Regions from separate parts of the Homo sapiens genome. Here regions 1, 2 and 3 are each reported to be linked to region 4. The links are microRNA targets in miRTarBase. Many come from high-throughput screens and were not tested one by one. Region 4 holds a microRNA gene; each other region holds the end of a gene's coding sequence.
What was found. Region 4 holds the annotated microRNA hsa-miR-8071 (CGGUGGACUGGAGUGGGUGG, at 4,518-4,537, opposite strand). A microRNA usually pairs through its seed, bases 2 to 8, with sites in the 3' UTR of a target mRNA and lowers its output. Matches are read on the target gene's strand: a 7mer-m8 pairs with bases 2 to 8, a 7mer-A1 pairs with bases 2 to 7 and ends in A, and an 8mer does both.

Region 1: miRTarBase lists PODXL as a target of hsa-miR-8071. Seed matches in the 3' UTR shown: 7mer-A1 at 1,532-1,538.
Region 2: the mRNA of LUZP1 is a reported target of hsa-miR-8071. Seed matches in the 3' UTR shown: 8mer at 5,481-5,488.
Region 3: miRTarBase lists ANXA6 as a target of hsa-miR-8071. Seed matches in the 3' UTR shown: 7mer-m8 at 1,411-1,417.

Annotation. Positions count from the first base shown.
Region 1 is chr7:131,497,800-131,504,916 of GRCh38, reverse strand. It overlaps PODXL (podocalyxin like), which reads left to right. Exons shown (of 9, transcript NM_001018111.3): 9 at 409-4,646. The coding sequence ends at 606. Among named protein-coding and RNA genes, the nearest start is that of PODXL, 55 kb to the left of the region's middle.
Region 2 is chr1:23,083,159-23,090,253 of GRCh38, forward strand. It overlaps LUZP1 (leucine zipper protein 1), which reads right to left. Exons shown (of 4, transcript NM_001395462.2): 4 at 872-5,895. The coding sequence ends at 5,737. KDM1A (lysine demethylase 1A) reads left to right here. Exons shown (of 21, transcript NM_001009999.3): 21 at 21-531. The coding sequence ends at 206. Among named protein-coding and RNA genes, the nearest start is that of MIR3115, 42 kb to the left of the region's middle.
Region 3 is chr5:151,095,516-151,102,632 of GRCh38, reverse strand. ANXA6 (annexin A6) reads left to right here. Exons shown (of 26, transcript NM_001155.5): 26 at 1,126-1,927. The coding sequence ends at 1,185. Among named protein-coding and RNA genes, the nearest start is that of TNIP1, 18 kb to the right of the region's middle. RefSeq lists enhancers at 3,878-3,927, 4,118-4,227.
Region 4 is chr14:105,618,571-105,625,687 of GRCh38, reverse strand. It overlaps MIR8071-1 (microRNA 8071-1), which reads right to left and starts at 4,572; the gene lies at 4,508-4,572. It also overlaps IGH and IGHG4.

The sequences.
Region 1 (7,117 bases), not on the chromosome of region 4:
CCTGCCCAGGCTTGAGGGCTCAGTCACCCAGCCCGAGAGAGGTCATTTTTTAATAGTGTTTTTCCCATTCATTATGATAGGTGAGGTAGGTGCCTGGAGAGGAGGTTTTGGGGGAAGGGATGAAGGGGAGGAGAGAGCTTAGAGGACTCTGGAGAACAAAGTCCATCTCCACTAACTTCACAGGTTCTGCCACCAGGGTGAGGGTGAGGGGCAAGTCTTTGTTCCCAACTAGTTCCGGGCAGGCTGAGAGCCAGAATGACCACCAGGAGCAGCCAGCCCCACAGGCGAGCAATGAGGGCCTGCTTTAGCTACAGTGGGGCTCCTGAGTGGGAGGGGTACGTACATGCGCTGTATTAAGCTCAGAGCCCTCTGAAACCCCCTTCTCACCGGTCACCTTCCCCACTCTAGCAGCGGCTAACAGAGGAGCTGCAGACAGTGGAGAATGGTTACCATGACAACCCAACACTGGAAGTGATGGAGACCTCTTCTGAGATGCAGGAGAAGAAGGTGGTCAGCCTCAACGGGGAGCTGGGGGACAGCTGGATCGTCCCTCTGGACAACCTGACCAAGGACGACCTGGATGAGGAGGAAGACACACACCTCTAGTCCGGTCTGCCGGTGGCCTCCAGCAGCACCACAGAGCTCCAGACCAACCACCCCAAGTGCCGTTTGGATGGGGAAGGGAAAGACTGGGGAGGGAGAGTGAACTCCGAGGGGTGTCCCCTCCCAATCCCCCCAGGGCCTTAATTTTTCCCTTTTCAACCTGAACAAATCACATTCTGTCCAGATTCCTCTTGTAAAATAACCCACTAGTGCCTGAGCTCAGTGCTGCTGGATGATGAGGGAGATCAAGAAAAAGCCACGTAAGGGACTTTATAGATGAACTAGTGGAATCCCTTCATTCTGCAGTGAGATTGCCGAGACCTGAAGAGGGTAAGTGACTTGCCCAAGGTCAGAGCCACTTGGTGACAGAGCCAGGATGAGAACAAAGATTCCATTTGCACCATGCCACACTGCTGTGTTCACATGTGCCTTCCGTCCAGAGCAGTCCCGGGCAGGGGTGAAACTCCAGCAGGTGGCTGGGCTGGAAAGGAGGGCAGGGCTACATCCTGGCTCGGTGGGATCTGACGACCTGAAAGTCCAGCTCCCAAGTTTTCCTTCTCCTACCCCAGCCTCGTGTACCCATCTTCCCACCCTCTATGTTCTTACCCCTCCCTACACTCAGTGTTTGTTCCCACTTACTCTGTCCTGGGGCCTCTGGGATTAGCACAGGTTATTCATAACCTTGAACCCCTTGTTCTGGATTCGGATTTTCTCACATTTGCTTCGTGAGATGGGGGCTTAACCCACACAGGTCTCCGTGCGTGAACCAGGTCTGCTTAGGGGACCTGCGTGCAGGTGAGGAGAGAAGGGGACACTCGAGTCCAGGCTGGTATCTCAGGGCAGCTGATGAGGGGTCAGCAGGAACACTGGCCCATTGCCCCTGGCACTCCTTGCAGAGGCCACCCACGATCTTCTTTGGGCTTCCATTTCCACCAGGGACTAAAATCTGCTGTAGCTAGTGAGAGCAGCGTGTTCCTTTTGTTGTTCACTGCTCAGCTGATGGGAGTGATTCCCTGAGACCCAGTATGAAAGAGCAGTGGCTGCAGGAGAGGCCTTCCCGGGGCCCCCCATCAGCGATGTGTCTTCAGAGACAATCCATTAAAGCAGCCAGGAAGGACAGGCTTTCCCCTGTATATCATAGGAAACTCAGGGACATTTCAAGTTGCTGAGAGTTTTGTTATAGTTGTTTTCTAACCCAGCCCTCCACTGCCAAAGGCCAAAAGCTCAGACAGTTGGCAGACGTCCAGTTAGCTCATCTCACTCACTCTGATTCTCCTGTGCCACAGGAAAAGAGGGCCTGGAAAGCGCAGTGCATGCTGGGTGCATGAAGGGCAGCCTGGGGGACAGACTGTTGTGGGAACGTCCCACTGTCCTGGCCTGGAGCTAGGCCTTGCTGTTCCTCTTCTCTGTGAGCCTAGTGGGGCTGCTGCGGTTCTCTTGCAGTTTCTGGTGGCATCTCAGGGGAACACAAAGCTATGTCTATTCCCCAATATAGGACTTTTATGGGCTCGGCAGTTAGCTGCCATGTAGAAGGCTCCTAAGCAGTGGGCATGGTGAGGTTTCATCTGATTGAGAAGGGGGAATCCTGTGTGGAATGTTGAACTTTCGCCATGGTCTCCATCGTTCTGGGCGTAAATTCCCTGGGATCAAGTAGGAAAATGGGCAGAACTGCTTAGGGGAATGAAATTGCCATTTTTCGGGTGAAACGCCACACCTCCAGGGTCTTAAGAGTCAGGCTCCGGCTGTAGTAGCTCTGATGAAATAGGCTATCCACTCGGGATGGCTTACTTTTTAAAAGGGTAGGGGGAGGGGCTGGGGAAGATCTGTCCTGCACCATCTGCCTAATTCCTTCCTCACAGTCTGTAGCCATCTGATATCCTAGGGGAAAAGGAAGGCCAGGGGTTCACATAGGGCCCCAGCGAGTTTCCCAGGAGTTAGAGGGATGCGAGGCTAACAAGTTCCAAAAACATCTGCCCCGATGCTCTAGTGTTTGGAGGTGGGCAGGATGGAGAACAGTGCCTGTTTGGGGGAAAACAGGAAATCTTGTTAGGCTTGAGTGAGGTGTTTGCTTCCTTCTTGCCCAGCGCTGGGTTCTCTCCACCCAGTAGGTTTTCTGTTGTGGTCCCGTGGGAGAGGCCAGACTGGATTATTCCTCCTTTGCTGATCCTGGGTCACACTTCACCAGCCAGGGCTTTTGACGGAGACAGCAAATAGGCCTCTGCAAATCAATCAAAGGCTGCAACCCTATGGCCTCTTGGAGACAGATGATGACTGGCAAGGACTAGAGAGCAGGAGTGCCTGGCCAGGTCGGTCCTGACTCTCCTGACTCTCCATCGCTCTGTCCAAGGAGAACCCGGAGAGGCTCTGGGCTGATTCAGAGGTTACTGCTTTATATTCGTCCAAACTGTGTTAGTCTAGGCTTAGGACAGCTTCAGAATCTGACACCTTGCCTTGCTCTTGCCACCAGGACACCTATGTCAACAGGCCAAACAGCCATGCATCTATAAAGGTCATCATCTTCTGCCACCTTTACTGGGTTCTAAATGCTCTCTGATAATTCAGAGAGCATTGGGTCTGGGAAGAGGTAAGAGGAACACTAGAAGCTCAGCATGACTTAAACAGGTTGTAGCAAAGACAGTTTATCATCAGCTCTTTCAGTGGTAAACTGTGGTTTCCCCAAGCTGCACAGGAGGCCAGAAACCACAAGTATGATGACTAGGAAGCCTACTGTCATGAGAGTGGGGAGACAGGCAGCAAAGCTTATGAAGGAGGTACAGAATATTCTTTGCGTTGTAAGACAGAATACGGGTTTAATCTAGTCTAGGCACCAGATTTTTTTCCCGCTTGATAAGGAAAGCTAGCAGAAAGTTTATTTAAACCACTTCTTGAGCTTTATCTTTTTTGACAATATACTGGAGAAACTTTGAAGAACAAGTTCAAACTGATACATATACACATATTTTTTTGATAATGTAAATACAGTGACCATGTTAACCTACCCTGCACTGCTTTAAGTGAACATACTTTGAAAAAGCATTATGTTAGCTGAGTGATGGCCAAGTTTTTTCTCTGGACAGGAATGTAAATGTCTTACTGGAAATGACAAGTTTTTGCTTGATTTTTTTTTTTAAACAAAAAATGAAATATAACAAGACAAACTTATGATAAAGTATTTGTCTTGTAGATCAGGTGTTTTGTTTTGTTTTTTTAATTTTAAAATGCAACCCTGCCCCCTCCCCAGCAAAGTCACAGCTCCATTTCAGTAAAGGTTGGAGTCAATATGCTCTGGTTGGCAGGCAACCCTGTAGTCATGGAGAAAGGTATTTCAAGATCTAGTCCAATCTTTTTCTAGAGAAAAAGATAATCTGAAGCTCACAAAGATGAAGTGACTTCCTCAAAATCACATGGTTCAGGACAGAAACAAGATTAAAACCTGGATCCACAGACTGTGCGCCTCAGAAGGAATAATCGGTAAATTAAGAATTGCTACTCGAAGGTGCCAGAATGACACAAAGGACAGAATTCCTTTCCCAGTTGTTACCCTAGCAAGGCTAGGGAGGGCATGAACACAAACATAAGAACTGGTCTTCTACACTTTCTCTGAATCATTTAGGTTTAAGATGTAAGTGAACAATTCTTTCTTTCTGCCAAGAAACAAAGTTTTGGATGAGCTTTTATATATGGAACTTACTCCAACAGGACTGAGGGACCAAGGAAACATGATGGGGGAGGCAGAGAGGGCAAGAGTAAAACTGTAGCATAGCTTTTGTCACGGTCACTAGCTGATCCCTCAGGTCTGCTGCAAACACAGCATGGAGGACACAGATGACTCTTTGGTGTTGGTCTTTTTGTCTGCAGTGAATGTTCAACAGTTTGCCCAGGAACTGGGGGATCATATATGTCTTAGTGGACAGGGGTCTGAAGTACACTGGAATTTACTGAGAAACTTGTTTGTAAAAACTATAGTTAATAATTATTGCATTTTCTTACAAAAATATATTTTGGAAAATTGTATACTGTCAATTAAAGTGTTTTTGTGTAAACTGGTTCAAGCTCTAGTAGTTTCCTCGGACTTCTTAAAGCCTTCACTTGTGTATGAGGCTCATCGCCAAAGTGCCTGAGAATGTCGGCTCACACCCGTAGCACAGGAGCCTCCGTGCTGAGTTACACTTGTCCAACTCTGCAGGCAAAGAAATTAGGCAAGAGAAGGAGAGAAACCGGAAGAAAAAAAAAGGGGGATCCTAAAGGTGGTTATGAGTCTTTATGTTACTCAAGCTATCCTAGTGACTCTAAAGAACCTCACTTTCCCCTAAGATGACGTTGTATGTTTCGCTGTCTTCCTTCCCTCTACTTCTGCCTCAGATACATTGTGAATCACCACTATCAGAAATCCCCAAGAGGGCTGCTGAACATTGATCAGGTATGAAAACACTGGCAAAGAGACTATATATATACATATATATGTGTGTGTGTGTGTGTGTGTGTGTGTGTGTATGTATATATATATATATATATATATATATATATATATATGTAAAAACAAAGCTCTGTTCTGGCCCTGTTTCTGCCATAAAAGGATCTGTTTACTGCCACAAGAGGCTTCTGCCTATCCCTCCTCCAGGTCTGCAGTGAAGATAGATAGCGGTTTAAGGAAGGAATCACTGGAGATGATTCTTTCTTCATCTCCTAGTGTGGTATTATCCACAGCTGCATGCTTCTTCATCGGAAGGGGTAAACTTCATCATTCCAAACTTGCAGAAGGGAAACTGTCAGGTAGAACTGGTCCATAATCTTAGTTGCTAGACAACAATCTTGTCTACTTGCCTAGCATCTTACCATTTACAAACCATTTTATAGGAAACCTATAGGTTTACAAACCTATCTTATAGGAATTGTCCCCACTAGGGAAATTAGATGCAGGAGTTAAGTATTCTCTTTGAGATTGATCACACAACCATTTAAATGGCAGCATGGGCCTTGATTCTCTTTTTGCTCTTTAGTCCTACACTCTTTTCTCAGTATCACGTTAATGCCAGAGTTCCAACAACAGCAAAATACATTTCTAGAATGCAACTACTGTTACAACATGATTTTCCTTCCATGAAAGTTGTTGTGAAAAGCAGTTAAACCCTGAAGAGAGGTCTAGAGTTGGGCCCGGGTAATTTTGAGGTTAGCTTCGAGAGGGTGCCAAGGATACAGAAAGGAGTCCAAGTACAAGGAACTCACACAGGACCCTGGCCATGGTCGAGGTGCACTGTTCTAAGAGTGACCCACAGCTTATTGTGGGCCACAAGTTAGACCTAAGATCCCATTCTCTTTCTGAGTAGGTCATTCACCCTGATCCCTGCCTGCCAACCAAGACACACGCTCAGTTGTCAATTTAAATGTGTTATGCTCATTTGTCACTCAGAACCTTCCCTATAAGCTCCCTCCCAAATCACAGATTTCTTCTGTACCACAAGGGAAAAAAGTAAATAAAGAATAGAACTGGCTACATAATTAACACTAGTGATAAACACTGAGATATCTATTGCTTTCAAAGACCTTGGTGGGGAATGGTGGCTTATGCCTTTAATCCCAGCACTTTAGGAGGTCAAAGTGGGAGGATAGCTTGAGCTCAGGAATTCGAGGCCAGCCTGGGCAACACAGCCAGATCCCATCTTTACATTTTTTTTTTTTAAATTAGCCAGTTTTGCTGGCACATGCCTGTAGTCCTAGCTACTCAGGATGCTAAGGCAGGATCACTTGAGCCCAGGAGTTGGCGGCTGCAGTAAGCTATGATCACACCACTACACTCCAGCCTGCATGACACAGTGAGACCCTGTCCTAAAAAGAAAATCAATAGGATCCTAGCCAACAAGATCTGCTGCCAGTATTTACTTCACAGAAGAAATGAGGCAGAGAAGTTGTGCAATATTATGCAGAAGTCATTGGTCATCAGGAAATGAAAGCCAGGATTCCCAATTCCTCCTGGACTCTCCATTCTATGTCCCAAGTTTAGAGGGCAGCTGTACAATGCTGCTATGTACATCGCCAAGGGTCCTAACCACCTCTCGGGGTTTGCCAACCATTAAAACTTACGAACGTAGTGCTAGGCAGGCTACTTCTACGTAGTTTCTCCTTATTACAGTTTCTCCTATATTAAGAATCTCTCTGGCAAGGATATGATTGACGGCTGCTGCTTTTGCTGGGTGAAAGCCCACAGGAAAAAAGTCCCCGTAAGACAATAGTGAAGCTGTAGAGTAAGGATGGTGGCATCATCCTCTGCTGCCCCAACTGCCCTATGCCCCAGAAAGCCCAAGTCTCCAGTCCCCTCTTCCTTTTCTCTAAGAATGTAAAAGGCAAAGGAAGATGTAGCATACGTGGTGCTAAAGAAGGAATGTCATCAACCAGGATTTTGACTTACGCCAGAACTGTACAAGCCTCAGATGGTCTTTCCAGTCATATTAATACCTTCAGAATCTGAACAGTTAGTGATAAACCAATGTTGCCTTCATTTACAGGGAAAATAACC
Region 2 (7,095 bases), not on the chromosome of region 4:
CTCTTTTTCCCCTAAAATAGCCGATTCCACGACTCTTCTTTGCGGGAGAACATACGATCCGTAACTACCCAGCCACAGTGCATGGTGCTCTGCTGAGTGGGCTGCGAGAAGCGGGAAGAATTGCAGACCAGTTTTTGGGGGCCATGTATACGCTGCCTCGCCAGGCCACACCAGGTGTTCCTGCACAGCAGTCCCCAAGCATGTGAGACAGATGCATTCTAAGGGAAGAGGCCCATGTGCCTGTTTCTGCCATGTAAGGAAGGCTCTTCTAGCAATACTAGATCCCACTGAGAAAATCCACCCTGGCATCTGGGCTCCTGATCAGCTGATGGAGCTCCTGATTTGACAAAGGAGCTTGCCTCCTTTGAATGACCTAGAGCACAGGGAGGAACTTGTCCATTAGTTTGGAATTGTGTTCTTCGTAAAGACTGAGGCAAGCAAGTGCTGTGAAATAACATCATCTTAGTCCCTTGGTGTGTGGGGTTTTTGTTTTTTTTTTATATTTTGAGAATAAAACTTCATATAAAATTGGCCCTCTCTTTTGTTCCTTTGAGTTGGAGTTACATACAAGATGGGGGCATTACTCCTTTGGAAATGCCAAGTTTATCCTATGGCAATAGTAATACATGTTTTCTCCATGTTTAAATAAGGAAGAAGATGTTCATATAAAAGAGAAAAATGGTTTGATCAGGTCAGAAGATAAGGTAGGGGGGCCGGTCCTGTAGAAGCAGTGGACTTCCTGGTCAGTCGGACTAGGCTTCCTCACTTGGGTGGGGGTGGAGTGTGGTGGTGTGCCAAGAACATGGTTATTAGGAAACTTTGGATGCACTTTCAAGATAGAACACAAAAGAGCTGAAACAAAGTCTGAGCCTTTGGGAGACCAGTCTGCCTTTATTCCTGATTCCCTCCATGGGTATGTGCTAAAACTTCCCAATTCTACTAAAGGTGGTGGTGTACATTTTGGGAAGCGCACTACATAGGATCAAGGGCTTAGGTAACAGCTGGTTTAACAGATTGCCACAAACTTAGTGGCTCTTAAAAAAACAGAAATCTATTCGAAAGTTCTGGAAGCTTAAAGTCTAAAATGGGTACACAGGGCTGCATTCATTACAGAGGCTCTCAGAGCAGGGAGGATCAGTTCATTTCCTTGCTCTTTTCAGCTTCTAGGTGTGGGAAGGCTCGTGGCTCCTTCCTCCATCCTCAGAGCACATAACTCCAGTTTCTGCTTCCATCATCACATTGCCTTCTCCTGTAGTCAAATCTTTTGTCTCTCTCTTAAAAGGATACTACCTGTGATTACATTTAAGGCCCACCTGGATCATCTAGGATGTTCTGCCTCATCCCAGCATCCTTATCTGCAAAGTCCCTTTTGCCATATAAGATGATAAAAACATGTTACATGCTGGTTCCTTCCCAGGGGCTCCTGACTGACTGACAGATAGATGATAAACACTGTTACTGCAAATCCAAGTAATGTCCCTTAAATGTGGTTTTATTCTTTCTTACTGTGAGTTAAGGGACATCATTATATATATTGGTGATCTGACTGGAAGATGAAAACGGAGAAGGCTTTTCCCCCCCTAGTCTTAGAATTCGTGGCAGTAATGGAAAGAATCTGCACACCAGGATCAGGGCAGTTAATGTTTCCAGTCCTTGCAGTATCAGTAATTGGTTAGGTAAAATACCCAATTTTAAGTATTACACAATGAAATAAATAAATATACTAGAGCTGCGCCAACGCATAGAAGACAGATGATACACAGGGATGACATTGACAAAACTGGCATCACAGACTCGCACAGAGTATACGGAAACGAGGGAGCTTTATTGGTTACATATTGTACTGCAGAGCCAACAGAGAGCATTCGCGCCAGAGGATACATGCAGACAGGCAGCTCCAATGATACACATGCACCCAAGGAGCCCTGAGCCACTGCTTTGCCCTGGTTTCCAGCGACAGGTTCTGGCCTCCTTGGTCCCATGCTTGGAGCTGCTGCACCTAGACTCTAAGGGGCAGGGGTGAGAGAGACCAGAGCACCTGCCTGAGCAAGTAGGTGTGGACCAACAGGCTGCCCCCAACAAAGGGGCCTATAATGCAATAACAGTTTATTTGAGGGCTACTTTCTTAGCCCTCTCAATCTTTAAAATACAAAAAAATAGACTTTATTCTCTTAAAAATACATTCCATTCAGTATATGTTCTGAGCTGGGAAGCAGCAGGAAAATAGGGCCCCTTTCCTATGATCCTATGGTTGTGAGGCTTTGAGGAGAACCCTGCTCCCCACTCGGGGTATTCAAAAAATAATCCCTAAAAGCAGCTCTTTCCAAAGCAATCTTGTCAGAGAAATAACAAAACCTCATAACAAGGTAGCCAGGGACCCAGCCTCTGGGTCCCCATTCCTTTATTGGGAAGTGGTAGCACTTGGCACTGACCCACTAAATATAAAGAACTAAAACTGCCCCAGGACGACAAGTCCAAGAACACTATAGTGCCCCCTGCATCCCGAACACTCCACTGACGGGGGTTATTTATGTGCAAGCTTGCCTACAGCTGAGGGTGGGGTGGCATCCTTGGCCCCACTGCAGATCCCTTTAACCCACACTGTGACTCTTTCTCATTGCCACCCAAAAGCAAAAAACAGCCACAGCTTCTTTATCCACCTGCAGCTTTCTCTGGTTTAGTATCAGAGTGGCAAAAAAAGCAGCAGCACGTGGAAGAGATCAGCTGCTGGTACTAAGCCAGCTTCACTTCCTCCAACCAAGCAGCTCTATTGCCAGGTCCCCCAACTCACTAGGAACCCTCCAACAACCATACACCTGCCAGTAAAATTTAAGAGCCAAGCTGCGGAAGAAAACTGTCATAAAAGTGGGTTTGTTGACCGGGGGCAGTGGGACTATTTGGCTTGATTAAACAACTATTCAACTACCAGGTCTCCCCTCTACTTGGAGGCTTCCTCCAGGACCCCTGATGATGAGGCCTGGGTCCAAACAGTCACACCTCAGTTGCTTTTCAGAAACATGCCTCCCAACTTTGGGATTTGAGAGCCAGCCTTGCCAGCCATTTGAAGCCCAGAGAAACAGCCTCCAGCCTTTACTTGCTATTACAATGTTATTTTCTGCAATGCTGAGGACACTTAAAAATAAAATCTATCTAGAAAGTGTGCAGATTAAAGAAACAAAATATCCTGAAATAACTGTTACAAGCAAATCCTATTGCACTCAGATTTCAAGATGGCAGCCCCAGCAAAAGGGCATCACAGCTGTCCCTCTTCAACAGGACATTTTGAGTAGCAGCAGATGTTGGTGCTGCTGAAATGTGGAAAGATCCAGACTTTGGCACCAGGAGCTATAGCACCAGAATCCAGGGCTCCAACACTCAAAGACAAGAATTATTGGCGAGATCTTTTTAGGCATGGCTTGGCGCCCTTCTGTTTCCATCAGCAGAGAAGAGCCACAGACTTAGTTTCCTAATACCTTTAGTTGACCACCACAGAGGTTGATTTTCTTTGAACTCTCAAGGTTGCCAACCAGTGAAGGAGAATGGCAGGGAGGCTGCAAGTGAAGGATGGCAGCCTTGAGTGAGCTAGTTTCTGGCCAGTAAGCCAGGAGAAGCAGCAGTAAGAGATCTTGGAAATAGCATCTTGAGCATCAGAGGTGGGGATGTGGACAGGAAAGGCAGGCCACATGACAATGCCTTTAGATTGGCAAAACTCTGGGAAGCAGAAGTATGAGCAATAGATTCCTGTCCCTGAAAGTAAGGTAGGTGCTCCCCAAGCCTCCTCACTGCCAAATCTGATACAGACAAGGTCAGGATGAACACTGGTTCCCATGCTGAGTGAAGGCAGAGAAGACAAATTCCTCTGGAGGAAGTCTTGAGTCTTCCTCTTGCCAGGAAATTCATAGGAGATGCACAGGAACAGGAGATACACAGACTTGGGTACTTTCCATAATACCTAGACTCCTAGAACGCCAGGAGATACTGTGTGGCACTGGGCAAGGCTGATGCCACAAAGAGCCTCAGAGACCATCCCATCTAATCCCTTCACACTTTGCAGATTGGGAAACAGGCCCACGGAGCTTCTCTGAGCTCATCCCCATGAGATTAAAACATACAGAAACTAAAAAACAAGGCCCAGAAAAACAATTGAGGGCAGGAGGGAAGAACCCACACGGATGATACCTTCCACAAGCAAAAATCATCCCATACTATTATAGATGGTGAAAACAGGAGAACCTTAGAATACCAGATTTGGTGCCCTTAGAGATCATCCATTTCAAAGAACTCATTTTACAGACAGGGAAACTGAGGCTCCAAGAAGACAATGACTCACCCAAGGTCACACAGCAAGGAAGTAAAGCCATGGGGAAAAAAATCCAGCTTACCAGACTGGTAGTTTAATGTTCTCTCATTCTGAGGGCAATAGTGTCTACTTCATAAAGGTAGCCTTTGAAAGAGGATCCCTTCTTTGAATTGACAGAATGCTAAAGAAAAAGCACTGCCAAGAATATACAATTCTTTTCAACTTCCCCATGTGACTGGTATAAGGAACCTAACCAATTTATTTACGTGGCTTTCTGAAAAGTTTGCTGCATTTTGAACTATATAAAGCTGAGGCCCTCAATGCGTATGTACGTATCACCTTTCCTCCAGCGAAGTCATCATGATAGTCGACTTGCAGAAATCCGGGGCCCACTTCTGTAGGAATGCATCAGCTTGGTAAAGTGCGATGCCTCCTCCATGGGGGATGGAGAAGGAGGAACAGGAGGGAGTAGTCTCACAGTCCATGCCTCTCATGGAGCTATTGCTTGTGGAGTGACTAAAGGGGTCTGCTTTCCCTCTTGCTGGGCACTTCCTAGAAGGCAGAGGATGCTGGGTCAGGCCCAGCTTAGCCTAGGGATTTTCCCAAGGTGGAAACAATGAAGTCAGCTTGAAGTCTCCAGCCACTGGAGAGAAAGCAGGCGATGCCAGCAGCATTACTGGTGCTCAGGAAAGGAGATGCATGAGGCTTGCACCTCCAGGTGCCTTTGGAAGGTGAGCAGAGAGAGCTGGGGTTGGGGAGGGATGATGTCATTCCAATGGGTATCCGCATGAGTATCTGCATGCTCTGCTTCCAGGAGACTGGTAAGCCAGGAGCCAGGTCAAACTTCAACCTAAAGGGTAGTCTCATAATCCTTTAGAGGCAGCACAGACCCCTTTCTGCTTTAAGTCTGAAGAAAAGAACTCCAAGGGGAAAGAAATGAAAGCCCCCTAGATAGAGCTGATGGCTGGTAAATCTTATGGGGTACTTGAGCCCATTGGGCAAATGAGGAGTGAAGTGGATATAGTGAGGAGACTGAGAAACCAGAACATTAACCACACAGACAGAGGCTGCCCTAGGATCCAGAAACAACCCACCAAGGAGCCGAGAAGAATTTTTGACTCCTGCTGTGTGCTGGGGACTTTATCTTCCCTTGTTTGGGGGCCAGAATGGTCCAACTACTTGGTGGACAGGGACAAGGAGAGAGAGAGGACTCGTGCATTGGGGAAGGTTGGGCCTGGGTGACTGTCCAGCTTGTAGTCTCTGATTCCCTCTGGCCAAATGGCAAAAATTACCTGAGCCACAGCCCGGCTCTACCACAGTTTTCCAGCCAAGGCTTGTGTCTTGCCTGGTTAACTGGCCTTGGATCCTTCGTGGGGCAGGACGGTGGAAGAGCTGAGAAGCAGGAGCAGAGGGCAGACAACAGACACCCAGCGGGCTCAGTTCTCCTCAGCACAGGGCCTGGTTGGCCGTAATCGTTCCTCGGCCCGTACTCGCCCAGACTCTGGCAGCCCCTGCTTCCCAGGCAGTTCAGACGGATCCAGGGAGTTGTGCAGTTGCCTGTAGACACTGAGTGTACAGTCTTCCCCTTCTTCCTCCTGTGCCAATAAATAACAAAAGTGAGCTGTGGAGGTCAGTAAAGTGAGGACCGAGACACCCTCACCTGCTACCATAGTGGGTCCTTTCCAACCCAGCAGAGGCAGATATAGCCCAGACAGGCCATAAGTTAACTGCAAAGATATGCTTTTGCCTGAGTATGGGCCAATATGTAAATTCCTTGGAAATCGGCAGACTGGGAACTCCAAGCTGCTGGGAACAATCAGGGTAGGCTAGGAGGAGGCTCACAACTCAACAGGAGCCTTACAGAGGATAGAGCCTGGAATGGGGGCATGGGACTAGCACCCCTGAGGAGGGGCCAGCAGTCTCCGAGTTCTGCACATGCATGCAGGCCGCATGATTCTGGGGATGAGGTCCACATCCTTGATGGGGAGCTGAAGAGAGGTCCGGACAGCTCTCTTCCTCCTTCCCACATACAAACTACCAAAAAGCTCACATTCCCGTCTCTCATCCTTTATCTCTCCTCTTAAATGTCCAAAGCTTCAGGGGCCCAAATAGCTGTCTTTCTCCCTACGCCTAGAATTCTACCTTTTTTTTTGAGACGAAGTCTCGCACTGTCTCCCGGGCTGGAGTGCAGTGGCGCAGTCTCAGCTCACTGCAACCTCCGTCTCCTGGGTTCAAGCGATTCTCCTGCCTCAGCCTCCCAAGTAGCTGGGATTACAAGCACGCACCACCACACCTGGCTTTTTTTTTTTTTCTTTTTTTGAGACGTCATTTCACTCTTGTTGCCCAGGCTGGAGTACAATGGTGCGATCTCGGCTCACTGCAACCTCCGCCTCCTGGGTTCAAGTGATTCTCCTGCCTCAGCCTCCTGAGTAGCTGCGATTACAGGCATGTGCCACCACACCCAGCTAATTTTGTATTTTTAGTAGAGACGGGGTTTCACTATATTGTCCAGGCTGGTCTTGAACTCCTGACCTTGTGATCCGCCTGCCTTGGCCTCCCAAAGTGCTGGGATTACAGGTGTGAGCCACCACGCCTGGCCAGAATTCTACCTTTTTAATATTCTCCTTGGTTCTCCCAAGCAAATGCAGATCAAAGAATAACATAGGCATGAGTAAGAAAGGTTAGAGTAGAAAGAGCATTGGATTTAGAGACAGGAATCTTGGATTCAAGTCTTCGCTCTTCCAGTAATTCTGCTGGGTGACCTTAGGTAAGATATTTTGTGTTTCTGACCCTTA
Region 3 (7,117 bases), not on the chromosome of region 4:
TCCTGGGTTTAAGCAATTCTCCTGCCTCAGCCTCCCGAGTAGCTGGGACTGCAGGCATGCATCACTATGCCTGGCTAATTTTTGTATTTTTAGTACAGACAGGGTTTCACTGTGTTGGCCAGGCTGGTTGCTAGCTCCTGACCTCAAGTGATCCACCTGCCTTGGCCTCCCAAAGTGCTGGGATTACAGGTGTGAGCCACCACACCTGGCTGCGTCTGACTTTTTTGACATATGGAGCTTATATTTTTGCTCTTTGAGATCAGCCAAGATCTTAAAGTCTGATGCTTGGTTCTACTTGGCTAACGAGACTATGGGCATCTCAGAGGCAGTCTCTTACAGACTTAGTAGGAATGTAAGTAAATTGTTGGCACATTTTGATACTATATTATGTTTTAAAATCATACATCAAAAAATACAAGGACAAACAAAATCCCGAAAACCATGTCTCATAACAATGATAGGAGTCCCTCAGAAGGGAGATCCATACCATACCATGGGTCAGGAAGTTTGGCCTCCCCAGTCTGAACGTATACCAGACCACTGTGATGTGTGGTGAGCGTGATGGTGTTTGTACCCATTCCCAGCAATGGCTTGGCAGTTAGCACTCAATGTTGTTTGTTCAAATAAGAAATCACCTAACACGATATGCCAAGGGCCATGGGGGAGGGTATCAGCAGAGTGCCAGGGGAACCAAGGGAGGCCAGAGTTCACTGTGCCTCCTGACGCAAGAGAGTGGCCAGAGTGCTTCTCAGAGGAGAGGGCCCTGCTGGCAAATGGGATTGGGGGTGCACAGGGGCATGTTGGACAGGGGAGTGACAGGTGGAGAGAGGACTGAGATGCTCCTGGGGGAAAGGAACAGGTGAAGCTGCAGAGCTCTGCACAGGTCAGATCCCAAAGGGCCTTGAAGCCAGGCCGGGAGCTTGCATATCTTCCTGGGGATAAACAAAAGGGACGTGGTCACATTTATGTGTCTGGGAGATCCCAGTAGCCTACATGTGGCATGGGATCCTATGTTGGTCATGGAGAGAAGCCGAGGGAGATGTCCAGACAGATGGGCAGCCGGGAGGAGGGGGCATTGAGACTGGAAGGACTGTTTTCACTCACTCTGCTCTCTGCCTCTGCCAGGGTGACACCTCCGGAGACTTCCTGAAGGCCTTGCTGGCTCTCTGTGGTGGTGAGGACTAGGGCCACAGCTTTGGCGGGCACTTCTGCCAAGAAATGGTTATCAGCACCAGCCGCCATGGCCAAGCCTGATTGTTCCAGCTCCAGAGACTAAGGAAGGGGCAGGGGTGGGGGGAGGGGTTGGGTTGGGCTCTTATCTTCAGTGGAGCTTAGGAAACGCTCCCACTCCCACGGGCCATCGAGGGCCCAGCACGGCTGAGCGGCTGAAAAACCGTAGCCATAGATCCTGTCCACCTCCACTCCCCTCTGACCCTCAGGCTTTCCCAGCTTCCTCCCCTTGCTACAGCCTCTGCCCTGGTTTGGGCTATGTCAGATCCAAAAACATCCTGAACCTCTGTCTGTAAAATGAGTAGTGTCTGTACTTTGAATGAGGGGGTTGGTGGCAGGGGCCAGTTGAATGTGCTGGGCGGGGTGGTGGGAAGGATAGTAAATGTGCTGGGGCAAACTGACAAATCTTCCCATCCATTTCACCACCCATCTCCATCCAGGCCGCGCTAGAGTACTGGACCAGGAATTTGGATGCCTGGGTTCAAATCTGCATCTGCCATGCACTTGTTTCTGACCTTAGGCCAGCCCCTTTCCCTCCCTGAGTCTCTATTTTCTTATCTACAATGAGACAGTTGGACAAAAAAATCTTGGCTTCCCTTCTAACATTAACTTCCTAAAGTATGCCTCCGATTCATTCCCTTGACACTTTTTATTTCTAAGGAAGAAATAAAAAGAGATACACAAACACATAAACACATTTCCAGTGAGGGCCTCTGTCTTCTACCTAGAGCCTGCAGCCTGGATTTTCCTCATTAGAGCTTGAGGTTGTAAAGTCTGTCCAGGAGCGAGTTACGTCTTTAAATTCTTGCAAGGTGTTTCCCGGGAAGCGCACAGGAGAATCTGAGTTTGCAGCAAGCCTGGGAAGGCTGGCCCAGCCCTGCTCCGGGCCTCAGGTTCCCCCTCATCCCCTCTCGCTGTCTGGACATTTCTGTATGCTCTTCATCCATTTCAACCAAGCCCAAACTTCCTCTTTTGAACTATGCAAGGGTGCCCGATGTGATCTTGATCTGGAGAGGTGCATGGAAAGTTTCCTTCATGCAGGTCACTGATAAGCAAGTAGGCGCAACTGCAGTTCCTCTGCCTTCCCTCCCCCGCTGCCCTACTTCTGGTCTGTGGCTTTGGTCTAAGATTGTCCAGTGACCATGGCATGGGGCTGGCTGCTGGCCAAAGGGCACTTCTCCCTACCCTGGCTGACCAGACTAGTTTATTGCAGGTTAGCGCGTGTTTGTTTTCTTTTCTTTCTTTTCTTTTTCTTCTTTTTTTTTTTTTTTGAGATGGACTTTCGCTCTTGTTGCCCAGGCTGGAGTGCAATGGCATGAATTTGGCTCACTGCCACCTCTGCCTCCCGGGTTCAAGCGATTCTCCTGCCTCAGCTTCCCGAGTAGCTGGGATTACAGACATGTGCTACCACACCTGGCTAATTTTGTATTTTTAATAGAGATGGAGTTTCTCCATGTTGGTCAGGCTGGTCTCGAACTCCTGATCTCAGGTGATCCACCCGCCTTGGCCTCCCAAAGTGCTGGGATTACAGGCGTGAGCCACCGTGCGCGGCGCATGTGTTTGTTTTCATAGCTGTGAAGACAGCAACAGGCAGGTGAGAGAGTCTGGTCTCGTCCCTCCCTCACTTGTGACCTCAGACCAGCCATTGCCCTCACTGGGCCTCAGTTACTCCAACTTTATAGTGGGGGGTTGGATCCAACAATTTTGAAGAGCTCTCTCTTAATCTCTGACATAATGAGTCTGAAACAAAGAAAAGTTACCTTACCGTGTCTTTACTTCCTTTCTTCTGGGCTGTGAACTCAAGTGCCTTGAGGGCCAGCTAAGAGCTTTTTGGGATATTTGTCTAACTTAATTGAACTGTTACTGAAAGATAAATTAACAAAATGGTTCAGAGTTTTGGATTAAGACCTTTGTAACTAACTGACCGTCAGCACAGGAGCTTCGGTTTCCTTCTCTGTAAAACAGGGCTCCTCATTCCAATTCCACCTATCCTGTAGCCTTGTGGGAATAAAAGGAGGCACCACGTGGAGGTGCTTGGCAGGGTGCGTGCCTGGCTCGGAGTCAGTCTCACTACCTGCCCCGAACCAGGCTCAGTTGTAGGGGCTGAAAGGTGGAGCCCATGATGCTTTATGGCTTTGATTTCATGAAGTCCGTCAGCTGCAGATCACAAAGGCATTTGAACCCAAAAAGAAAAGTGCCTTAAAATATATACTGAGGGAAATGGGCTTGGGGCAGAAAGGAAAGAAGAGTGGAATCAGGGAATAGAAGTGAGGAGAGCCCATGGAGCTGAGGGGAACACAGAAGAGGAGGCCTAGAAACCAGGAATGAGGACAGCTAAAATCGGGCAGTAGCTGTCTGATGCCTCCCTAATGCCTCAGCATGCATTTTCCACATAATTTTCAGTTAAGGTAGTTGCATTCTGGTACTGGTCGGTAGCAGGAAGGAAACCCTAAGAGTTTGTGAGGTGAGGTAGACAAGATGAGAAGTGACAGTTTGTCTCCAATTAAGGAGGACTTTAAATGTCAGGATTTTCTCTGATAACCTAGGGGAAGCCTTTGGAGTTCTTGAGTGGGGAAGGTGTGCGTCTAGCTATGCTCTGAGGACAAATGTAGGAAGGCAGGGTGCCATTCGGGAGCCTTTTGCAACGGTCCTACTAAGAGCTCGGTGCCAGCTGAACAAACCACATTTTTTTCTTGGAGTTTTAGCAGAGGAGGAGAGTAGCCACTGTTCTGAACCAGAGCACCCCATTCATGCATGCATGCAGTTTACACTTAATGAGTGGCTCCTATGTTCCATGCCACGTGCTAGGTGCAAAACATACAAACCAATGTGGTTCTGGTGCTTAAGGAGCTTCCACTGAGTGTCCCTCCTGCTCAGCTCTCTCCAAAATGACACTGGAGATTGCTTCTGTGGCCAAAGTTTAATCGGGAGAAGCGATGGGGGCTAATTTAAAACTAAAAGGAAAGAGAAAGCAGAAGCCCAAACCGCTGCTGTCTCAAAGTGGGAGAAAGGGAGGCTGGCTGTGATGTTCTAAGGGTAGAAGGGGCCCTCAGAAATTCTCACCTCCCTCCCTCACTTGCAGATGAAACAACTGTCACTTCCACAGAGAGGAAGCAACTGGCCCAGGGTACATAGCAAGCTAGCAGCAGACAGAACTGGAATTGCCATCCCGGCCAGGGCCGGTGCTTTTAGAAGCACCCTGTGTTTTCTCCTTTTGTCGTCACCTGTGGAGGTGGGCTTCAATACTCTCTAGCTCCTCACTGCTCCCCCTCCTGCCTTGAGCCTTGCATTTTCCCTTTAGGGCAAACTGTTACAAGCTCTGAACTGGGATGGGCCAATCTTGGTCTTTGGGGCCACTAGGAAATACCCGAAGGAAGTTGCCCATTGGGAGGGGGGGTGCCCTTTTAACCTGAGCAGAGAGCAGCTATTTAGGAATTGCCACTCAACCTCCTGCCCGTGGCGGTGGTGTGGGAACCGCTGGCTGTTTAAAGTTTCCCTATGGCCAGGTGCCGTGGCCCGTGCCTGTAACCCCAGCACTTTGGGAGGCCAAAGTGGGCAGATCGCTTGAGCCCAGTTCAAGACCAGCCTGTGTGTAGCAAAACCCCGTCTCTACAAAAAATAGGAAAAAAAAATGCTGGAGGTAGTGGTGTATGCCTGCAGTCTCGAGAGGCTGAGGTGGGAGGATCGCTTGAGCCCAGGTTGCGGAGGTTGCAGTGAGCCATGATCGTGACATTGCACTCCAGCCTGGACTACCAAGGGACACTGTGTCTCAAAAAAAAAAAAGAAATCCCCCTATATTCATGGTGCCCCAGCACAGCTGCAAGCAATAAGTCGCCACCAGAATAATCCCACTTGAGAAGCTTTGCCTCCATGGCCGTTACTTCCTTTGCAGTATTATAGGGGTGATCACCCTCTTTTTACCAATGAGGAAACTTGGGCTCCAAGTGGTGAAACATACTGCCTGAAGACATAGACAGTACATCATGGATTGACTCACTGGAAATGGTCTTAGAGATGGCCCCAACCAACCCTCTCGTTTCACAGGTTTGGTAACTGAGGCCCAGAGACAGGATTGTGACCATTGTATTAGTAAGTGCCAGATCTGAGGCTAGAACGCAGCTGTCCTGATTCCAGGCTCTGCTCTCTCTGCTGACACTTCCTCCTTTACCTATTGATGAGGAAGCCAGACTGAGCTGAGCATGGGAGGGAGAAGGGTCGGGTTGCCCAACCTGAATTTCGGAACCCAGAAGCGGTAAAACAGCGCTCTAACATGCCTCTTCATTCCCCACCAGAACCTGGGTTTCCTACAGATTTCCCCACTTTAGGGTTGGAGTGAGGCAAGTGGGAAATTGTAGTTACATAACTGAGCCCTCTGCTCAGTGGTTAAGTCTGTGGAGGCAGGCAGGCCTGGGTTCAAATCCCATCCACCACTATTAGTAGAAGTAAATAAGTAACTTGACCTGTCTGTACTGGCAATGCATGTTTATTTCTGAGCACACTGTCTAGAACATACGAAGGACTCAGTATATCAGCTCTTTATTATCAATAATAGGCAGGATTCTATTTTAGAGAAGAGTAATCAGGGTCAGAGGGGGGAGTCTGATGCTCTACACTATGCCTGCTACACAGAGAGCTAAGTGGGGAAAGATTATTAGAAAAATCTCAACCAGACCAGGCTCAGTGGCTACACCTATAATCCCAGCACTTTGGGAGGCCGAGGTGGGTGGATCACCTGAGGTCAAGAGTTCAAGACCCGCCTGGCCAACATGGTGAAACCCCATCTCTACTAAAAATACAAAAAAAAAATTTAGCCGAGTTGCGGTGGCGGGCACCTGTAATCACAGCTACTTGGGATGCCGAGGCAGGAGAATCACTTGAACCCAGGAGGCGGTGGTTACGGTGAGCCAAGATCACACCACTGCACTGCAGCCTGATTGACAAGAGCAAAACTGTCTTAAAACAAAAAAAGAAAGAAAAAGAAAAATCTCAACCAAGCAAGGGACACTGAGTGCAGAAGCGATGAATTAACCACAGGGAGGACTAACAAAGGCTCCTTGGAGAACGGGACACTTGAGAGCACCTCAGCAGATGGTTAGAGAAGCTCTTACATTAGAAACTACTGAAGGAGGGAGGGGTGTCCAGGCAGAGGCAATGGCTGAAGCAAAGGCGCAGAGCTGGGAAAGGAGAGGTGTGTGGGAGTGCTGGGGCCCGTCACCCGCTGTGCGAGGACGCCCTCTGGGAAGGTCACTGAGTCCAGGCTGAAGAGTATGGACTTTATCCTCCAGGCACTGGCTAGCCCCTGAATGTGCTAGGGAGGGAGATTATATGATTAGAGATGTCCTTTAGAAAAGATATCCCCAGGGACCAGCATGGAGGAGACAGGACCAGCAGCTGGGGTCCCTAGGTGTCGGGGGGATGAGGACACAAGCCAGCACAGAGGATGCAGAGATGGAGAAAAGAGAAGGACACTGGGGAGCGAGAAAACAGGGAAAAGGGCCCTAAAGTGCCATGGGGAGTGAGCGGGGAGGAAGCAGATGTGAAGCCAAGTTCCATTCCCTAAGAACTCAGAGAAGGACATGAGGACAGAGGTCCCTGATGTAGGCTGTCCCACTGCCCTCCTCTCAGCTAGGTAAGGACTGACAAAACCCTAAACAAGAGCTGTCTGGGAATGTCCCCCCACCACACAAACAGGCCCAGCTGTTAAAATTTCCAGAACATGCATTTCCTTCTGTGGGATGGCCCCACCCCTTCCTCCCAACTACCACCATCTGCCTGTTGTGCTGCCAGCTGCAGGCAGAACCCCTCCCTGGCCGTCTTGAAGGCCATGGACCTTGACCTGGGAGGGCCTGAAAGGAAAGTAGGGAGGGTGGGGAACTGACATTTCCTT
Region 4 (7,117 bases):
CCAGCCCAGGGCAGCAAGGCAGGCCCCATCTGTCTCCTCACCCGGAGGCCTCTGACCACCCCACTCATGCTCAGGGAGAGGGTCTTCTGGATTTTTCCACCAGGCTCCGGGCAGCCACAGGCTGGATGCCCCTACCCCAGGCCCTGCGCATACAGGGGCAGGTGCTGCGCTCAGACCTGCCAAGAGCCATATCCGGGAGGACCCTGCCCCTGACCTAAGCCCACCCCAAAGGCCAAACTCTCCACTCCCTCAGCTCAGACACCTTCTCTCCTCCCAGATCTGAGTAACTCCCAATCTTCTCTCTGCAGAGTCCAAATATGGTCCCCCATGCCCATCATGCCCAGGTAAGCCAACCCAGGCCTCGCCCTCCAGCTCAAGGCGGGACAGGTGCCCTAGAGTAGCCTGCATCCAGGGACAGGCCCCAGCCGGGTGCTGACGCATCCACCTCCATCTCTTCCTCAGCACCTGAGTTCCTGGGGGGACCATCAGTCTTCCTGTTCCCCCCAAAACCCAAGGACACTCTCATGATCTCCCGGACCCCTGAGGTCACGTGCGTGGTGGTGGACGTGAGCCAGGAAGACCCCGAGGTCCAGTTCAACTGGTACGTGGATGGCGTGGAGGTGCATAATGCCAAGACAAAGCCGCGGGAGGAGCAGTTCAACAGCACGTACCGTGTGGTCAGCGTCCTCACCGTCCTGCACCAGGACTGGCTGAACGGCAAGGAGTACAAGTGCAAGGTCTCCAACAAAGGCCTCCCGTCCTCCATCGAGAAAACCATCTCCAAAGCCAAAGGTGGGACCCACGGGGTGCGAGGGCCACATGGACAGAGGTCAGCTCGGCCCACCCTCTGCCCTGGGAGTGACCGCTGTGCCAACCTCTGTCCCTACAGGGCAGCCCCGAGAGCCACAGGTGTACACCCTGCCCCCATCCCAGGAGGAGATGACCAAGAACCAGGTCAGCCTGACCTGCCTGGTCAAAGGCTTCTACCCCAGCGACATCGCCGTGGAGTGGGAGAGCAATGGGCAGCCGGAGAACAACTACAAGACCACGCCTCCCGTGCTGGACTCCGACGGCTCCTTCTTCCTCTACAGCAGGCTCACCGTGGACAAGAGCAGGTGGCAGGAGGGGAATGTCTTCTCATGCTCCGTGATGCATGAGGCTCTGCACAACCACTACACACAGAAGAGCCTCTCCCTGTCTCTGGGTAAATGAGTGCCAGGGCCGGCAAGCCCCCGCTCCCCGGGCTCTCGGGGTCGCGCGAGGATGCTTGGCACGTACCCCGTGTACATACTTCCCGGGCGCCCAGCATGGAAATAAAGCACCCAGCGCTGCCCTGGGCCCCTGCGAGACTGTGATGGTTCTTTCCACGGGTCAGGCCGAGTCTGAGGCCTGAGTGGCATGAGGGAGGCAGAGCGGGTCCCACTGTCCCCACACTGGCCCAGGCTGTGCAGGTGTGCCTGGGCCGCCTAGGGTGGGGCTCAGCCAGGGGCTGCCCTCGGCAGGGTGGGGGATTTGCCAGCGTGGCCCTCCCTCCAGCAGCACCTGCCCTGGGCTGGGCCACGAGAAGCCCTAGGAGCCCCTGGGGACAGACACACAGCCCCTGCCTCTGTAGGAGACTGTCCTGTTCTGTGAGCGCCCTGTCCTCCGACCCGCATGCCCACTCGGGGGCATGCCTAGTCCATGTGCGTAGGGACAGGCCCTCCCTCACCCATCTACCCCCACGGCACTAACCCCTGGCAGCCCTGCCCAGCCTCGAACCCACATGGGGACACAACCGACTCCGGGGACATGCACTCTCGGGCCCTGTGGAGGGACTGGTCCAGATGCCCACACACACACTCAGCCCAGACCCGTTCAACAAACCCCGCACTGAGGTTGGCCGGCCACACGGCCACCACACACACACGTGCACGCCTCACACACGGAGCCTCACCCGGGCGAACCGCACAGCACCCAGACCAGAGCAAGGTCCTCGCACACGTGAACACTCCTCAGACACAGGCCCCCACGAGCCCCACGCGGCACCTCAAGGCCCACGAGCCGCTCGGCAGCTTCTCCACATGCTGACCAGCTCAGACAAACCCAGCCCTCCTCTCACAAGGTGCCCCTGCAGCCGCCACACACACAGGGGAACACACGCCACGTCGCGTCCCTGGCACTGGCCCACGTCCCAATACAGCCCTTCCCTGCAGCTGGGGTCACATGAGGGGTGGGTTTCACCATCCTCCTGCCCTCTGGGGCTCAGGGAGGGACACGGGAGACGGGGAGTGGGTCCTGCTGAGGGCCAGGTCGCTATCTAGGGCCGGGTGTCTGGCTGAGCCCCAGGGCCAAAGCTGGTGCCCAGGGTGGACAGCTTCCGGGAGCTGACCTCAGGACATTGTTGGCCCATCCCGGCCGGGCCCTACATCCTGGGCCCCGCCACAGAGGGAATCACCCCCAGAGGCCCAAGCCCAGGGGGACACAGCACTGACCACCCCCTTCCTGTCCAGAGCTGCAACTGGAGGAGAGCTGTGCGGAGGCGCAGGACGGGGAGCTGGACGGGCTGTGGACGACCATCACCATCTTCATCACACTCTTCCTGCTAAGCGTGTGCTACAGTGCCACCGTCACCTTCTTCAAGGTCGGCCGCACGTTGTCCCCAGCTGTCCTTGACATTGTCCCCCATGCTGTCACACACTGTCCCTGACACTGTCCCCCACTCTCTCCACAAACTGTCCCTGACACTGTCCCCCATGCTGTACACACCTGTCCAACAGTGTCCCCCAGGCTGTCTCCACATGTCCGACACTGTCCCCCATGCTATCCCCCATCCTGACACTGTCCCCCACACTGTCCCCACCTGTCCTTGATGCTGTGCCCCACGGTCTCCCCACCTCTCCCTGATTCTGTCCCCCACGCTGTACCTGTCCCCAATGCTCTCCCCCAGCCTGTCCCCAACACTGTCCGCCATGCTGTCCCACCTTTCCCCCACACTGTCCCCCAGTCTCCGCCTGTCCCTGACGCTGTCCCACATGCGGTCCCCCATTCCTGATACTGTCCCCCATGCTGTCCCCACCTTCCCCAACACTGTACCCCACAGTCCCCACCTTCCCCAACACTGTCCCCACCTGTCCCTGACACTCCCCCATGCTGTCCCCACCTGTCCCCCACTCACCCCCCACACTGTCCCTGTCTCTGACACTGTCCCCCATGCTGTCCGCACCTGTCCCCGTCCCCCACGCTGTCCCTACCTGTCCCTGACACTGTCCCCCATGCTGTCCCCCACTTTCCCCAGCTTTCCCTGTCCCCCACGCTGTCCCTACCTGTCCCTGACACTGACCCCCATGCTGTCCGCACCTGTCCCCCACTCTCCCCACCTCTCCCTGTCACCCACGCTGTCCCTACCTGTCCCTGACACTGTCCCCCATGCTGTCCCCACCTGTCCCCCAATCTCCCCACCTCTCCCTGTCCCCCACGCTGTCCCCACCTGTCCCTGACGTTGTCTTCTGTGTTATCCACATGCTGTCACTACCATGGCTCTGCTCTCCATGTCCAGGCCTGGGGGCAGGCAGTGTAGAGCCCCGGTACCTGGGTGGCCTGAAAGGCAGATGGGCCTTGGGAGCAGGGCTGTGGCCTGGGTGGCCTGAGGGGTGGGTGGGGCTCAGGGGCAGGGCTGTGGCCTCGCTCACCCCTGTGCTGTGCCTTGCCTACAGGTGAAGTGGATCTTCTCCTCAGTGGTGGACCTGAAGCAGACCATCGTCCCCGACTACAGGAACATGATAAGGCAGGGGGCCTAGGGCCACCCTCTGCGGGGTGTCCAGGGCCGCCCAGACCCCACACACGAGCCGTGGGCCATGCTCAGCCACCACCCAGGCCACACCTGCCCCCTGACCTCACCGCCCTCAACCCCATGGCTCTCTGGCTTCGCAGTCGCCCTCTGAGCCCTGAAACGCCCCCCTTCCAGACCCTGTGCATAGCAGGTCTACCCCAGACCTCCGCTGCTTGGTGCATGCAGGGCGCTGAGGGCCAGGTGTCCCCTCAGCAGGACGTCCCTGCCCTCTGGACCACCAGGTGCTCACACAAAAGGAGGTAACCGGCATCCCAGGCCCCCACTCAGGCAGGACCTCGCCCTGGAGCCAACCCCGTCCACGCCAGCCTCCTGAACACAGGCATGGTTTCCAGATGGTGAGTGGGAGCATCAGTCGCCAAGGTAGGGAAGCCACAGCACCATCAGGCCCTGTTGGGGAGGCTTCCGAGAGCTGCGAAGGCTCACTCAGACGGCCTTCCTCCCAGCCCGCAGCCAGCCAGCCTCCATTCCGGGCACTCCCGTGAACTCCTGACATGAGGAATGAGGTTGTTCTGATTTCAAGCAAAGAACGCTGCTCTCTGGCTCCTGGGAACAGTCTCGGTGCCAGCACCACCCCTTGGCTGCCTGCCCACACTGCTGGATTCTCGGGTGGAACTGGACCCGCAGGGACAGCCAGCCCCAGAGTCCGCACTGGGGAGAGAAAGGGCCAGGCCCAGGACACTGCCACCTACCACCCACTCCAGTCCACCGAGATCACTCGGAGAAGAGCCTGGGCCATGTGGCCGCTGCAGGAGCCCCACAGTGCAAGGGTGAGGATAGCCCAAGGAAGGGCTGGGCATCTGCCCAGACAGGCCTCCCACAGAAGGCTGGTGACCAGGTCCCAGGCGGGCAAGACTCAGCCTTGGTGGGGCCTGAGGACAGAGGAGGCCCAGGAGCATCGGGGAGAGAGGTGGAGGGACACCGGGAGAGCCAGGAGCGTGGACACAGCCAGAACTCATCACAGAGGCTGGCGTCCAGTCCCGGGTCACGTGCAGCAGGAACAAGCAGCCACTCTGGGGGCACCAGGTGGAGAGGCAAGACGACAAAGAGGGTGCCCGTGTTCTTGCGAAAGCGGGGCTGCTGGCCACGAGTGCTGGACAGAGGCCCCCACGCTCTGCTGCCCCCATCACACCGTTCCGTGACTGTCACGCAGAATCCACAGACAGGAAGGGAGGCTCGAGCGGGACTGCGGCCAGCGCCTGCCTCGGCCGTCAGGGAGGACTCCCGGGCTCACTCGAAGGAGGTGTCACCATTTCAGCTTTGGCTTTTCTTCTTCTTTTAAATTTTCTAAAGCTCATTAATTGTCTTTGATGTTTCTTTTGTGATGACAATAAAATATCCTTTTTAAGTCTTGTACTTCGTGATGGGAGCCGCCTTCCTGTGTCCACGCGCCTCCTGCCCCCGGTGGGAAGCACGGTCAGGAGGAGGCTGGTCGAGCTGCACCTCGGGGGCTCCCTGCACTCGCCCCCCGCCTCCTGCAGCCACACGCATTGCCCGAGCGGCCCTCCCTGGCCCCTGTCGCTACATGGACCCCCGGGGCTTCTCCTCTTTTCTACATGGATGCAGTTTCTCCTCCTGCTGGGCACGGTGCTGCCTGCCCTGGTCACTCTGCGGGGGACAGGGCCTCCAGGGAAAGCTGGGTCGAGGCTGGGAGCTGGCTCAGGCTGGCCAGGCAGAGCCACAGGGAGGGCCTTCCAGAACCAACCATGGTCCGAAGCGAGAGGTGGGTGTCAGATCTGTGTGCGTCAGCTCAGGACCACAGCGGGGCAGCTCCCACGGCAGACATGGATCCTCCCAGGCCTAGAGACCAGGAATCTGAGATCAGGATGCAGGCAGGGCTGGTTTCTCTCAAGCCCTCTCTCCTTGGCTTGTAGACACCGTCTCCTCCCTGGTCCTCACATGGCCATCCCTCTGTGTGCCCGTGTCCTAAGCTTCTCTTCTTATAAGAACACACATCGCATTAGATTAGTGACCCCATATGAACTTAATGACCTCTGTAAAGACCCCATCTCCAAATAGTCACATTGTGAGGCCAGGGATTAAGACTTGAATATATGAATTTGTAGGGGCCACAATTTAACTCATAACAGTCCATGCTATGGCCCCCCAAATTTCATGTTCTTCTCACATGCAAAATACATTCATCTGTCTCAGCATCCCCCAAGTCTTAGTCCTTTCAGCATCAATTCTAAGCCTAAAATCTCATCAAACTGTCACCCTCATCAGGCACAGGTGAAACCTGGTGTGTGATTCATTCTATGGTAAAATTCAGCCCATAGGACACATGGTGGGTGCCAGGAACGAGGACAAGGCAGGAGAGGCAAAGGTGGAGAGAGACATTTTCAAAGATAAAGCTGGGCACTAGATCATGTAGCAAGGACGGATTTTCAACAGAAATAACTATTGCAACAGAAGAAAGAGTCCGGCATGACCTGGACTCACCTTCATCTGTGCAGAGGCCACAGCCTTGTAAAGGGAGGTGGTAGGGGGAGCAGGGTGGGTGCTCGGGGCTCAGTCGTCGGGGAAGGGAAAAGTTGCCCAGCGCTGGTCAGCGTCCCCGGGATGGGACCTGCTGTGTCCGTGCCGGCCACTGTTGAGGTCAGGATTCTGTCCTCCCAGAGCCTGGAGACACAGGCCCCATCCTTCACAAAGGGGACACTTCAGGGAGCGGCTCTCAAGTCTTGAGAAAGACCCTCCTGGGTCACAGGAAATGCACAGACATCGGGAACGGATAGAAGGACGTGTGGTTGCGGCCCTCTCAGCAGACACCCTGAGAAAGGGAGGTCGGGGTTGGTCCAAACGGTGAGTTCTGGTGCACGGAGCTTTCTCAGGCAGGTGTTGACGGGGCAGGGGTCGGCCTAGGGGTACGGCCAGAAGCTGTTAGAAACTGTTAGTGTCTGCTCAAGTCTTTACAAGCCAAGGTTGAGGCCGAGTGGAGAGGCTCCGAGGAGCCTGGCTGGAACTCAGTCAAGGACAGGGTCTTGTTACTGCAGTGGCTGCGGTGGCTGCGGTGGCTGGAAAATGCCGTCGGAGTTGCCTGTGGCAGGAGAGAGACCATCTCACCCAGGAAGGAGGAGTGGTTGGATTCGTTTGTGTGGCATCGAGCAGCTGGAGCTGCACCAAACACGGAGTTGGGGACTAAATCCCCAGACTCCAGGCCCTGCCATGCCGTGGGAAGGCTCGCCACTGGAGGGTGGGCTCCAGGGGGCCTGGCCTGAACTGGGTGCTGAAGCCCAGCCCTTTAACTCTCAGGACACGCTGCTGCAGCCCCGCGGGGGGTGAGGGAGACAG